Homo sapiens: one gene and its partner. The protein of the gene in region 1 purifies or fractionates together with the protein of each later gene. This does not show direct contact. Each region holds a gene or a part of one and is shown on either strand. Other genes may lie near its edges.

Region 1 (3,819 bases):
TCATTTCAGGACAGATGGGACCTGCTGTTGGGAGGACAACAATGCTGCCTCCCTTACCTCTGTTATTACCCTCACCTTACTACACACTCCTCCTGCCAAGAGGATTCATTGTTACTGACCGGGCTGGTGCTTTTGCTCAGGACCTCCAGGACCTCCCGGTGTGCCTGGTCCAGCTGGAAGAGAAGGTCCCCTGGGGAAGCAGGGGAACATAGGACCTCAGGGCAAGCCAGGCCCAAAAGGAGAAGCTGGGCCCAAAGGTAGGTGGCTGGTCTGTGGCCAGTCTGAGAAGGGAAAGGAGGAAGGACAAGGGTCCATGATATGACCTGAGGCGTGCTCAGAGTGCCAGGGAGAGCCCAGACCCTTGATGCTGCAAAGGCTTGCCATGCACCCTCCCAATCCCCACAACTGCAATATTTTCCTCTCACCCTCCACAGAGGAGCCCCAGAAAGCAAGGAGAGTCTCCCCACTTCTCTCTCTGACCCTAAAGTTGCGGGCAAAAAGCTCCATTGCTAACAAAACCACACCTGCTGAACGCGCTCTTAGCTGTGTTTGTTCCTGTGTGTTCCTTCTTCAGGAGAAGTAGGTGCCCCAGGCATGCAGGGCTCGGCAGGGGCAAGAGGCCTCGCAGGCCCTAAGGGAGAGCGAGGTGTCCCTGGTGAGCGTGGAGTCCCTGGAAACACAGGGGCAGCAGGTGAGCAGTGGAAAGAGCTGGGCTGGGCTGGGTCCAGTTCTCCTGTGCCTGCTTGGAGCTGTCAATGCCTACACCCCCTCCACCACCCACAAAGGCAGAGGTGGTATCGCTGGAACATGGAGAGAATCTGTATCCAAGAAGGGTGCATGAGGGGGCTCTGGGGACTGTTCCTATCTAGGGAGAGTGAGGCGCAAGCAATGGAGAAGTCTGTATACAGGGAAGGTTAGTTGTTGGGTGGCGGGGCAGTTTTCCACAGCGGGGTTGATTGCTGGGTGACAGGGACAGTCAGTGTACAGGGAGCTGCATGGCTGGGTACTGGGGACCATCTGTCTATTTCTGGGCAATAAGGATAGTTAGTCCATGTATGGGAAGGTAAAAATGCTAAAAACAAAAAAAATAAAATGAGTACATAGCTCACCCAGTTCTTCTTTTACCCCAGGGTCTGCTGGAGCCATGGGTCCCCAGGGAAGTCCAGGTGCCAGGGGACCCCCGGGATTGAAGGGGGACAAAGGCATTCCTGGAGACAAAGGAGCAAAGGGAGAAAGTGGGCTTCCAGGTAAGGTAGCAGCTCCTGGCCCAGGGAAGCCCCGCTGGGGCATGGGTGGGCAGAGAGGAAGCCCTCCTCATCCCAGAGGAGGGGCTCTGGGATGTGTGCCCCATTAATGGCAGCTGGTGGGTGGAACTCAGGAAAGGCGGACAGGCTGGAAGGCAGGAGCATGGGGCTCTGGTCTTAGCCACTTAGTACTCATGGGAAAGCAACCTGGGCAGCTTCTCCATCTGACTATCGGGAAAACTACAACTGCCTTCCCAATTCATAGGACAGTTTTGGGCATTAAAAACCCAGTGGATAGGAAACACATGAGTGTGTATTCCTGCCCAGCAACCCCCCCACCCACCCAATGGAGATGCCATTATATTCCAAGACTTTAAAGTCACAATGTCATCTGGTTCAGTGTCAGTGAAGTACAGGCAGCAATTTGTTCATAGCAGAACCATAAGACATCCTTACACAGCAGAGGCCAGCTGTGTCAGTAGATGTGGGCTTGCTGTGGGTCAGCCCCACAATATGTGCCCGAAACTAGACACCCTTCCTTTGGGGCCCAGACTCTGAGCTCTTCCTTCGCTCTCTGGACAAGTCTTTACTTGGCCATTTTCTCCCCTCCAGATGTTGCTTCTCTGAGGCAGCAGGTTGAGGCCTTACAGGGACAAGTACAGCACCTCCAGGCTGCTTTCTCTCAGTATAAGAAAGGTGAGTTCCTGGATCTGAACCTGGACCCAGCACTGGCATTGGGCCCCACACTAGATCTTGACCTTGGTTTGGCCTTTGGCTGGGGCTAGACCTTTGGCTGGACCTGAGGCAGAGCCTGCCCTGGGTCTAGGATGGGAATGAGCTGGGACCTGTGTAGGGCTGGACCTGGGACTGTGGCAGGGGGTAGGGCTCAGGCTGGGATGGGGCTAGAAGAGGGCAGCCACCTGCTCCTGGAGCTCAAAGTAGATCCAAGGGGGCAAAGGAGGAGGATGTGGCCCCTATCACCAGCTCACCAGGCTGGCAGTAGCATAGTTAAGGCCATCAGGCTCCTGAACTACCCACCAACCTCAATGCCACCTGTGCCCTGAGATAAATTGTTGTCCTGAGTCCAGTGCAATTCAGTAGAGCCTCTCTCCTGCCTACTTTGTGCTGGTCCCTCTGATAGATAAGGGGCTACCCAACACGGGCTGCATTTCTTAGCTCAGAGGGGCCAGGTATGGGAGTCCCCAGTGATGCTGCTGCACATCCCAAGGCAGCCCAGAAACCAGATACTGTTCTGGGAACTAGGACTGGGGTTCTGCTCTGGGGGTACAAGGCAGGTGGGGGCCTGACCTTGGTATGTGGCCATCAGATATCTCACCTTAGACGTGCTCTTGGTTCAAATAGGGGGCAGGCTGCTTCTGGGCTCCAGCCACTGCTGGGCTCTACCTGCAGCTCTGGAGGTATTTTAAAGCAGACTTTGCCCTAACCCTGGAATCCTGAAGAGTCAGAGGCCTCCAGGGACACACAGCTGAGGGCCTGGTGCCTTTTTGAATCTCCACATCAGTGCCCAACTGCCCCTACTCTCCTCCGCCTTTCCTGATATCAGCTTTGAGTTCAGGCGCATCTCATTGAGCCAAAAAATAAAAGATTAAAGTTTTCTGAAGTAGTAGAGCATAAAAGGGCTGACTGGGTGCAACACAGGTTTGGCTTCTAAGTACCCAAGCTCTGAAATGAGAGTTTCAAGCATTTGGTATATATCTCTTTCTGCATATGCTCTAATTCACTCAGAGGCACAGTGACAGAAACACACAGAGGAACATGTCCATATGCACCCACTGCATGTGTGTGCACTTAAACACCATCACTCACTCCACCTCCATCTACATACATGAGCTCATATGTTGTCTATATAGCACACACAAATATGCACACACATCCAGATGAACCTTACATACTCCCACGTACCTTTGGGTAGATGCACATATATTCAAAGGCATGCCCACATATGTGCATGGCACATAAACTTAGTAATGGTACATGAACTCTTATGCTGACTTTGTTCAGGGCTGCTCTGGGTGCCACCCTGAGCCCATGGAGAATCTTAAGGACGATGAGTCAGGGTGCAGCCTGCATTCTGAGCAGCCCAACAAAGCCAGGGGCACAGCCTTCTCTGGAGCTTCCAGTGTCCTTTGCGGAAGATTTCCATGCATGGGCCCAAGAGCCACAAAGACAGACTAAAAAGAGATACTTGACATGTCACACAGGCAATGCTTTTGTGAAGTGAGCCCTCATTTTAGAGATGAGGAAATGGAAACCCTGAAAAGGGAAGTGACTTTCCCTTGCCCACGCAACAGCTTTTGTGAAGTGAGCCCTCATTTTAGAGATGAGGAAATGGAAACCCTGAAAAGGGAAGTGACTTTCCCTTGCCCACGCAATGTGGATCTGAATGCCTGGTCTTCCAGTTCCCACCCAGGGCTGTCTCCAGCACTAACACCACTCCCCTGCGCCTCACTCACACATGCCCTTCAGATGCTCTCCTCCACTCCCTCAGCACCTCCCAGGCAGGCTGACTGGCTAGGACATCATCCATGTGCATACTAAGAGGCCGACATGAGGC
Region 2 (3,819 bases), on another chromosome or scaffold:
TGTCTGCAGAAAGGGTGAATATGAGTTTGAAGAGAGGTTTGAAATGGCCTTGTGGATGAATAACTCAGTGACCCACAGACTTGTCAATTAGTGTCCAAGGCTAATGGAAGTCACATGACATGAGTACTGGGAAAATCAGGCAGGCTGTGGGCAGTTCTTGGTCCCTCAGGCAGACCTATGCAGACTGGAAGCCAGAGTGAAAAGCTGGTGCTTCTTTTTGGGTTGGCCTGAGAGGAGTATGGGGTCAGAGTGAGAATGACATTGAGAGTTGAGGACCACAAAGCCCTAGCCAGGAAGAGAGTGTAGAATAGCAATACAGTATACTTCTAAGTCCCTGACTTATGATATTTGTGCAGATAGAAGAAATAAATGAGCAAATCAGAAAAGAGAAAGAGGAAGCTGAGGCTCGTATGCGACAAGCATCTAAGAACACAGAGAAATCAACTGGTGGAGGTGGAAATGGAAGTAAAAATTGGTCAGAAGATGATCTACAATTACTAATTAAAGCTGTGAATCTGTTCCCTGCTGGAACAAATTCAAGGTACTGGTTTTAATGAAACTTTTCTTCAACTCACACTGGAGCCTGGAGATAATGTAGACAGACTCCAAATAGCAGCACTTGTTATCACAGAAACTTGCAGAGATAAATTCTGTGCCACAGCAGAAAAGTGTGAAAAGTGAGGTGCATTTTGAAGCTGTCAGTCTTACCCATTGCATCAGTACACATGCACATATACATATGACAGAATACTTGTTTCTCAGGAAATTGAAGATCATGAGACAAGTCTTGATTTATGTTGGCTTACTCTGTCATGGCTTGTTCTAGGGATTAGGTTTTCTGTAGTTTTTCTTTTACAGTCTTGCTCTTTGTTTTTTCCCACCTCAAGCTGGAGCTTGAGTTTAACTGCAAGAAAGCCCTAGAGATCCAGCGTCCCTAATTCTATAGATGAAACCGAGGCTGTTTTCAGAATGATTGATCTTCTGAAGAAATGTATTAAACTGGCAGTATACACAAATAAGTGGTTTTATTTATGTTGATTTGTACACCAAATCTGTAAGATGTATGGACTTAAAACCAAGATTATCGTTGATTTAAACACATGAAAAGCAAAAACCGTAGTCCAGGCAACAGGAATTTATAGTAGCAGCATAATTAGACCACCAATCTGAGCTCATTCTGTACATACTATAACCTTTCTGCAGTAAAAATCTAATGGTTTTTGTCGTTTCATTTTGTTTTTCCTTACTACTATTCATATTATTGTATAATATATCCTATCAGATGGGAAGTTATTGCTAATTACATGAACATACATTCTTCCTCTGGAGTCAAAAGAACTGCCAAAGATGTTATTGGCAAAGCAAAGAGTCTCCAAAAACTTGGTGAGTTTTGAGAAGTCCATTTGTTACTTTAAACACCTATTTTTAAAATAACTTATGCAATTTAATGAAAGATTAAATGATGATCTGTTAAGTATTAAATTTTTTTCATTTCTCAGACCCTCATCAAAAAGATGACATAAATAAAAAGGCATTTGATAAGTTCAAAAAAGAACATGGAGTGGTACCTCAAGCAGACAACGCAACGCCTTCAGAACGATTTGAAGGTAAATTTTGCTTTTCTAAACGTAGAAAATGCTAGCCATGTATCTGTGCTGCTTGGACGTACAAGACTTAGGGTCTATGTTCAGAATGATAGGGAAATAAAATGTTTAGCAGACTGGAAGCTGTAAGCAAACATTTCCAGGGCAAAGATTTACTTCACCTAACCATTAAAAATGGAGAATTGCAGTTGTTCCATTTCAGATGCCATTAGAGAAGGGGGCTGTTTGTTTTGCTTACCAGGTTTTACAAAACAGTGTTAGAGGATATTATTGGGACTAAAGAATAGTGTTATATCGGGATAATTGCTTGATTTTGAGAAATGTACTGTAATTATATAAGAAAATGTCCTTATGTTTAAGGAAAAACACAGAAGTGTTAAGGAATAAAGAGGCATCATGTCTGTAACTTATGGTTCAAAGTATGTCTGTACATATAGGTAAAAATAATTAGCAAATATGAAAATGTTCACATTTGGGGAATGTAGGCAGAGTATACAGGGATTCTTTCTACTCCTCTAAAATTATTTCAAAATAAAATGTTAAAAATTGTTAGGGTTCAAAACCAGGAAACATAGTAAGACTCAAAAAAAAAAAAAATGTTAGGGTTTGATATTATCTTGGGTGTTGTGATTACTCTAGACCAATGCTTTTCATGTTACAAATCATGACCCATCACTGGGTCATGAAGTCAATTTAGTGTGTTGAATAGAAAATGAGTGTTACACCCATTATATGGGTGGGTATACTTGTGAAACTCTTGATCACGTGTGTCTTTGTTTAGGATGTGATATAAATTTTTTTCTTGCTATGACAAGGTTTGAAAGCAGTTTATGTGGAAAAAGTTCTTTCACTTCATGTTTTGTGAGCCACCAATCCTTTCTTAAACTAATCGCAGAAAGATGCTTTTGGATTAATAGACTTGACTATACATAAGCTGTTTCTTTCTTCTAAGAGTCCCAGTTTTACCTATATTCTTTAATCTTGCTTATTATCCCAAAATTTCAACTTAAAGATATGAGACTTACAGTGTTAATATAGGGGAGGAAAATCATTGCAAAAATCAGCAGTGACTTGTTTGGCTGAGTTAGGCATTATTTCGGTTCTTTTAATAAAGGTAAGTAACAAGGCAGGGTTTCAGAACACCTGAAAGACACTTCTTTATAAAGGAGTTTATTCTCCTGCACCTTTATCTCCACAAAATACAACAGGTATTAGCACACTAGTCTCAGCTCTTTCTTAGGGGGACTTGTTTCCATGTTGGAGGGAGGTGGGCCCTGATATTTGTCCAGTCTGCTTTCTGTGAGGAGAGGTGACCCTGTGAAGGCAAGAGTGACTGGCAGTAGTGCTATGTGGGTATGACTCCTTTGCCTCTTTTATGGAAATGGGAAGGCTCCTTCCTCTTCAGTTGTACCATTAAACAGCAAGCTGGCACCATTTTTTGAATAGTGATTTCTCATAGGAGTTTTGCAACAGTACGTTTAATTTATTTTGGTATTGTGAAGTAACTGGAGAACAGCAGGAAATACTGCCATGTCACTTCCATCTTTTTTCCAAGAGAGGAAATAAAATCTATGGTATTTAGGGCTTTAAACCAATACAAGGAAATTCAACAAAAGACTTCCTAGAACTTAAAAGCTACCTTCAAAAAAGCTTCTTAGGCACCTTAGGTACCATCAAATATTATACAAATTCTCTGCTTTGTTTTGAATAGGTGGTGGTTTTGTTTTGTTTTGTTTTGTTTTTCCTTCTTTAATTGGGAAGGAACTTTGGTTTCTAGGCTTAACTTTTAACAGATCTCACAGGCCGCAGTTTCTAGTAGTAGTCAGGCTACTGGTAGTATTAGTCTGTGTTGTCACTGCATAGTCTGAAATAACTAAATTGCCAGAAGTCCATTAACTTAACCAAATCAGCTTTCTACCACTTAACATTCTACTTTTACCTACACAAGTGGACTGTGTAATACTTAACATCCTTAAGAAACATATTTGTTTCTGACACACATCTTAGATGTTTTCTGAAATATACAAGGTTTAGTTGAAGAACCACAATAGCAGTTATTGGAAGTGTTCAGCATCGGCTCCCAAGATTTTAGCAGATGTGACGAAGAGAACACCACACTACAACACAATCTAATCTCAGCTTGCCTCTCCAGCACTGGTACCTTGGGCACTTGGCTTAATTTTGCTAGGTTTGTTTCCTTCAGTGTAAAACAAGA

The links.
Region 2: the proteins of SFTPD (region 1) and DNAJC2 fractionate together in Homo sapiens (co-fractionation; one large-scale study listed by BioGRID). This does not show direct contact.

Annotation. Positions count from the first base shown.
Region 1 is NC_000010.11:79,938,826-79,942,644, reverse strand, and holds part of SFTPD (pulmonary surfactant-associated protein D precursor), read left to right. Parts: intron 1-140; coding exon 141-257; intron 258-574; coding exon 575-691; intron 692-1,130; coding exon 1,131-1,247; intron 1,248-1,856; coding exon 1,857-1,940; intron 1,941-3,819.
Region 2 is NC_000007.14:103,313,552-103,317,370, reverse strand, and holds part of DNAJC2 (dnaJ homolog subfamily C member 2), read left to right. Parts: intron 1-356; coding exon 357-541; intron 542-1,282; coding exon 1,283-1,383; intron 1,384-1,499; coding exon 1,500-1,607; intron 1,608-2,684; exon of another isoform or gene 2,685-3,819. UniProt on the Homo sapiens protein: Acts both as a chaperone in the cytosol and as a chromatin regulator in the nucleus.